Homo sapiens: one gene and its partner. The protein of the gene in region 1 purifies or fractionates together with the protein of each later gene. This does not show direct contact. Each region holds a gene or a part of one and is shown on either strand. Other genes may lie near its edges.

Region 1 (3,500 bases):
TCCAGCACACACCTGCCTCATTAAAATGTGCTTTGAGTATATAATAGCTAATAAGGATTGGGTAGAATTTGAATAGCTGAATAAACATTTTTTTGCACAAGTGTACGTTTGTTATATTTAAGGAATAAGTTAACAGATAACAGATGCTATTGCTGTTAGGAGCCCTATCACAATACCTTTGATATCTTTGGGAATCCAGTTTTTTAATAATATAATAAATTCCCCTTTGTTCTCTGGGAATCTAACCATAGCCCTTAAAGGATATTACCTTGGTGAACTGTCAGGAAGTAGTGTCCCCACAACCTGGCAGTGTAAAACTCAGCCAAAGTAGCTGTAACTGTGAACTATCTAAAGGAGTCCACATGTGTGGCTTTCACAATGGTGCTCTTTCAAAGGCGGGAACCCTTTTTAAAATTGTACCTGTTTTCTATTTGATTGACTTTCCTAGGCTATTTCTAGATTGTGTGAAGACAAAGACTTGTGTAGAGCCGCTATGAGAAGGTCTTTCAGTGCTGATAACTTCATTGGTATTCAGCGCTCTAAAGCCATCCTCTCTTAAAAGGAGAAATGAGGGGTTATAACGTCATGGGACCTTCATCTACAAAGACTGGAGAAATACCACCTTTCCTGCTCAAAAACCAGCAAAATTAGTGTTTTCATCAAAAGGAAAGATCTCAAATTCAAGAGACTCATGGACAACAAGGATTATACTCCACAGGAAAGAATGGGACCTTGTCAATGCAACAAAACACTCTTCTGTCCTTTTTAATGTAAACAGAGTTACAAAAACCACTCCAAAGTGAAGGCTCCCATCCTACACACAGATATTTGCTTACTGTGTGGGCCGATAGCTGTGAACTATGTAAGGTTTTTTAAACAATAGTTTAAATTTTTAGACTTTAAAGACACTAACCATATAACTTTTATGTTTCTTCCAGTTTCTCTCCCTCCCCCCGCATTTTGCTGCATATGCCTTTAAAATCAATGCAGTATTACCATTAAAACATGGGACTCTAACTAAAGCCACTTAGGAGCAGACAGCAGCGTTGTTAGGTACTGAAGGGTTCTTCCTCCCTACTGTTACCATTGAAGCTGCTAGTCATTGGCAATCATTTTAAACCAAAAAGCTGCTGGATAACATTTGTCATTCATATTCTTTGCAAGCATTACTTTAGCATTTTAGCATGTTTGGGGTCATAAACAGAGGAAGTATCAGTTATTGATATCTACTTCTATTGGAGTCCATGTTGCATTTCTTGTGAACTATAAATGGTGCTTCTCATTTTCTGATAATTTTTCTCTTGCTAAATAAATGTATTAAAAGATATTTTCATAATGCCAACCAACATGGTGGTTCAGTGACGATGAGAAAAAGTGAAGCAGTTTTAAGCTTGAATATAGTTTGGGCCCTCCAAGGCACTGCAGCATGAGTATAAATGCTATAAACCTTTAAAAAACATGATTTGAAAGTTTTTTGTTTTGTTTTGTTTGTTTTTAAAGAGATGGGGGTCTTACTGCGTTGTCCAGGCTGGAGTGCAGTGGCTTTTCACAGGTGCAATCATTGTGCACTCACTGCAGCCTAGAACTTCCTGGTCTCAAGCCATCCTCTAGCCTCAGCCACACAAGTAGCTGGGACTACAAGTGCAACTGGCACCTGTCTCCTGAATATTAAGCTTTTAATTTTTTGTTTCGGTCACTCTTGATAGCAGACATTGACTGAAACAAAAAATTAAAAGCTTTATATTCAAAATTTGCAAAATGAAGCTGGGTGTGGTGGTGCACGCCTATAGTCCCAGCTACTTGGGAGGCTGAGGCTGGAGGATTGCTTGAGGTCAAGTATTGGAGGCTGCAGTGTACCATGATGGTGCCTATAGGAATAGCTACTACACTCCAACCTGGACAACGTTATCAAGACCCCATCTCTTAGAAAAATGCAAAATTAAATGCAAAAGAAATGGGCTGGGCATAGTGATTCATGCCTGTAATCTCAGTACCCTGGGAGGCTGAGGTGGAAGGATTGCTTGAGTGCAGGAGTTCAAGACCAGTCTAGGCAACATAGTGAGACCCTGCCTGTAAAAAAAAATAATAAAAATAGTTGGATATGGTGGCATGTGTCTGTAGTCCCAGCCACTCTGGAGGCTAAGGTGGGAGGATCAGTAGAGCCCAGGAGGTCAAGGCTGCAGTGGGCCATGATCATGTCACTGCTCTCCAACCTGGGCGACATCCAGACCCTGTCTCAAAGAAAAAAGCAGAAGAAAAATGTTCAGACAAGGTTTTGTAAAGGTTTGTAGCATTTATATTTCTACAAGTATCAAAGCTTAAAATTACACTGAACTTTTGGAATACCTTGTATCTCCATAAAATGCCCTCTTTTTAAAAGTAGTTACCCGCAGAGCTGTGCTCTATATGCTTTGATTACCGCAGTTTCTTTAAAGGAAGATTTTGAAGAGCAGTGTTAATTAACATGTAATAAAAGGAATTGGACCCTAATTATAGAAGGTGATATGAACAGCTGTTTTATCATCCTACATGCTACCAAGCTGTAGGTGTCCCATTAAGTCCTGCTATTTAAGAAATACTTACATAACCCTTAGGAACTCTTCAGGCTTTAAAAGGCAAGGAGCAAATAATTTTAGGAGACCGATAATGTCACCTAAATTTGAAATACTAAGAAGAGGTTAGTGTTCTCAACTATGTGAAATCTGTTTCTCCTACTTTCTCAAATCTAATCCTAGGAATCTTGCTTATAAACAAAGCATTTCTGGGACAGGAGTACTTCCTCTATTATAGCAATGCTTCACATCATATTGTGCTGCAGTTTCCATCATTTTTAAAGGACAGAGACATAAATGATAAATAATGGTATACAAATATTACAATCTACCACCTCAAAAAAACAAATATTGTTTATGGAATTCAGAGTTTGGAGATTCAAGTATTGATTGCAGTTTTATTTTGAAAAGAATGCTACAATTTATGTGGTTTTTATTTCTCATGTTTATATTAAAAGCTAATAAACTCTATTTTAATTAAAATATGGCTAGTGTGTTTGTAACACTTCTATCCACATAGTGTTACATCTCTGCCCAGCCTAGTTTTAAGTCAATCCTGATATGTCTTAAAGCATTTTCAAACCAACCATAAGTTGATTTGATCCATGCCTCTAGTTAAGATGTAGTGATCCATTTCTTTTGCATATGCTCTTTTCAACCTGAAGATAATTTATTACACTTAAAATCACTGACCACAATACTTAATGGCATAGTGCATTAGATGGCATCTTGAATAGTTGGTTATCGTGTCTGAGAGGGAAAAGCACATTAGAATATAAAATTAAGCAAAATGTATCAAAGAGAAAGGAATTAAAGGAATAGCGTAGAATTAGAACAAGAGGTATTTGAGGTTTTCAGACAAACAGGAAAGAGAATGGAAAGACAGGAACTAGAATTTGTGTTGCTGTTGAGAGGATGTCTTAAGCCACATAATTTGACTTTAATGTG
Region 2 (3,500 bases), on another chromosome or scaffold:
TTCCCATTTTACACAAAAGACACTTTTCACCAGAGTCCCTGATCCCATAGAACAGAGCTTGGCAAGTGTTTTCTGGGAAGGGCTAGACAGTAGTTTTGCTGGGCTCTGTGGCCCACGTGGCCTCTGGTTTGGTTGCTTGGTTTCTCCTGTTGTTCTTCCAGAGCCGGAGACCCTTCCTTAGGAATGGGCTTGGCTGTGTTCCAATAAAACTTTATTTACAAACACAGAAGGTGGGCCGGACTGTGGATTCTTGGCCTCTGCCGTGACCCATAACATCCCTCCTGGAGGAGGGGTTCTGGGGGGCTGTGTTGGAAGGGGCACCCTCCGGGCTCGGCACCGGGGCCAGACTAAGGGGTGCTCTCACGGGCAGGCAGTCTGGTGGGCAGAACTGGAAAGAAAGGGCTCCTGACTCTGCCTGGGCTCTGGGGGAGGTCACATGGGAGGTGCTTGGAGTGGGGCTGGGGCAGCTGTGGGAAGGAAGCAGCATTAGCCAAGAGCTATGAGACCCCCAGTCGATTGTGGGGACCGGGGCTCCGTGGGCTTTCACCATGCTGCCACCCCGAGGTCACCAGGGCCTTGACCCAGATGCTCCCAGACCAGGCCGGAGACTTTGCATGATTTCAGTGATGAGGGCCCGGCTGTTGGAGAGCCCGTCTGTGCCTGTGTGCTGGGGTTGGTGTCTGGCACCAGGGACCTTTGGGACCTTTAGCCAAGCCAGAGCTGTCCTTCCCCAGTCCTAGCTTGGCAGAGCTGCGTCTGCACTGTTTTCCCTTGTGGCGTTGTGGTGTCGGCCCGTTTGGTGCGCAGCTCAGCATCCGTTCAGACATGTGGCTGCCATCCTGTTCCTGATGAGGCAAATGGCTGTGGCCTGTTTGTTTCCGTGACAGGTCCCCTGGGGACCAGGGGGTGCGGCTGTCTCTCTGTCTGGGAGGTTTACAGCCTGGCAGGAGCCCTGCAGCCCCAGAAGGCTGAGGGCTGGGTGCTCCTGAGAACGGGCAGGCCTAGGGCATGGGGTGGGTCTCCTTGGTCCCTGGCACGTGGTTTTTCTTCTGGGACCCCTCCTCCCTGTGCAGGCCGGGCTCCCCTGGGGGCCCACACTGAGGGTCTGCAGTGTGGCACAGCAGCTGGGACCTGGGCCCCATCGCTGTGAGACCCTCTGGTGACTGGCATCCTGGCGAGATGGAGATGTCTTTGTCAGCTGCTGGGTGGGGGCCCTGGGCAGGGGAGCAGAAGGAAGGTGGGGATGGCAGGTGCGGGCGGCTGGACTGGGCTCTGCTGGGAGGGGGAGCAGGAGGAGGGTGGGGATGGCAGGTGCGGGCGGCTGGACTGGGCTCTGCTGGGAGGGGGAGCAGGAGGAGGGTGGGGATGGCAGGTGTGGGCGGCTGGACTAGACTCTGCTGGGAGGGGAGCAGGAGGAGGGTGGGGATGGCAGGTGCAGGCGGCTGGACTGGGCTCTGCTGGGAGGGGGAGCAGGAGGAGGGTGGGGATGGCAGGTGCGGGCGGCTGGACTAGACTCTGCTGGGAGGGGAGCAGGAGGAGGGTGGGGATGGCAGGTGCGGGCAGCTGGACTGGGCTCTGCTGGGAGGGGAGCAGGAGGAGGTGGGGACGGCAGGTGCGGGAGGCTGGACTGGGCTTTGCGGGAGCAGGAGGAAGGTGGGGATGGCAGGTGCGGGCGGCTGGACTGGGCTCTGCTGGGAGGACCGTGGTTCTGCCTAGGCCAGAGCCCTGCAGTGTCCGCCGTGGTCCCTGCGGTGGGAGGCGTGGTGAGCAGTGCCAGCTTCCTGCTTGTGGAATCCGTCTTTCCTCATAGCTCCATCCTGCTCTGTTAAGCATTAAATTGAAGAGGTGGGGGTCGTCCCTTCTGGTCCAGGCCCGTCTACTCCGCAGCCCTCCTGGGAGGCGTCCAGGGCTTTGGGGCCTGGTCCTGCCCCCTACTTCATTTTGAGAGCGTGGCAAGGGCCCCAGCCCGTTCTGTCCTGGGCGCGGTGGCCACCACCCCTGCTTCTCTTGGCTGGCTTTGGCCTGTTGTCCCCGTTGTGTGTCAGGGGCTCCTGCCCGTGGATCCGGGCCTTCTCCCTGTGGCCTTCTCTGAGCTGCTGCTGCTGCAGGCTGGAGAGCAGGAACTTGAAGCCCTGGCTGGCTGTTCCTTCTCCCTCCTGCGAAGTGGGAGCTGCTGTGCTGGACTCTGCTGCTTTGGGGCTTCATGGGGAACATGACGCTGTCTGTCCTGCTGGTGGCAGCGTGACCTGTTGCAAACCTCAGCCTGTCCCACTCAGGACCCGGTGCCCGTAGGCCCCTTGGCCCACCTGCTTCCTGCTGTTCTACCAGTGGGAGCTGAGGGGTGCTGATCTGGGGATCCCCCTCGTCTGGGCCCCACCGTGTGCCTGGGCCCCCGTGTGCCTTGGAGCACCAGCCAACAAGCAGTGCCCACGGGGCTGTGGGTCAAAGGCCACCCAGACCTGAGGGGTGCAGAGGCTTGCTTGTCCAGGCCTCCCGCCCAGGCTGGGGGCCAGGTCCGCTGGGGCCCTGCCCTGCTTCCCTGCTCAGGGCTCTGCCCGTGGCTCTGCCCGTGGCTGTCATTCTCCCACCGTGCCCACTGATCCTGGGAGGCCCAGGAGGTGGTGCGATCCCTGTTTTTTGGTGCAGAAACTCGGGAGCCACAAAGGGGTGACCTGACACACTCATGGTCACCAGCCTGGGGCTCCCTGAGGAAGGTGAGCCAGTCTGGGTCTTTGCTGTAAACCACGTATGGTCACGTCCCTGTCTGTCCTGTCGAGAGGGGGAAGCATCCCAGACCACCTGGTGAACATGGGCGCCCTTCCTGGAGGCGTCCTCCCCTCCTCGGGCCTGTTTCTCGTGGGGCGGTGCAGCCCCGCACGTCCCGTGCTGTGGCTCTGACTGCTGGCCTTGTCCTGCAGGTGGCCTGTGAGTACGGCATGGTGCACGTGGTCTCCCAGGCCGGGGGCCCCGAAGGCAAAGACTACTGCATCCTCTACAACCCGCAGTGGGCCCATCTTCCGCACGACCTCAGCAAGGCAGTGAGTACCCGCTGGCCGGGCGCCGCTGCGGAGGAGAATGCGGGGGCCCCGGGGCTCTAGAGACACATCCGGCTGGGGTTGCAGGAAAGATCCAGAGGCGAGAGGCAGGCCCTGACCAGGTCTGGGGGACTCTTAGCTGGCCCCCAGTTCCCCTGGGCCTCCCCAACCCTGGTCATCAATGCAAGCTGTCCATGCGGCCTTGGGGTGCAGATCCAGAGGCACCGGCCGAGCTCCATGTGGTAGATAAGGGTCTCTACTGCTCCATGCCGGGGACCCTATCCAGTGGGCCCAGACAGAGGGGTCCTCAGAGGAGTAACAGCAGAGGGCACAGTGGGGCCCCAGGGACGAGACCTGTTCCTTTCACCGTCTTCCTGACTGGGGCACTAACACCTGCTGCTGGATGAGTCCCTCCCTCAGAGGCCCCACCTCCTTTCCCACTTAGTCCTCATGCCCCGCCTCCTT

The links. Proteins that work in one complex are often made in the same cells at the same time.
Region 2: the proteins of CCNYL1 (region 1) and SPPL2B purify together in Homo sapiens (affinity purification with mass spectrometry; 2 studies listed by BioGRID and IntAct, with this or other methods). This does not show direct contact.

Annotation. Positions count from the first base shown.
Region 1 is NC_000002.12:207,753,140-207,756,639, forward strand, and holds the end of CCNYL1 (cyclin-Y-like protein 1), read left to right. Parts: intron 1-448; coding exon 449-559; 3' UTR 560-3,035; downstream 3,036-3,500. UniProt on the Homo sapiens protein: Key regulator of Wnt signaling implicated in various biological processes including male fertility, embryonic neurogenesis and cortex development. Activates the cyclin-dependent kinase CDK16, and promotes sperm maturation.
Region 2 is NC_000019.10:2,331,684-2,335,183, forward strand, and holds part of SPPL2B (signal peptide peptidase-like 2B isoform 2 precursor), read left to right. Parts: intron 1-2,918; coding exon 2,919-3,038; intron 3,039-3,500. UniProt on the Homo sapiens protein: Intramembrane-cleaving aspartic protease (I-CLiP) that cleaves type II membrane signal peptides in the hydrophobic plane of the membrane. Functions in ITM2B and TNF processing.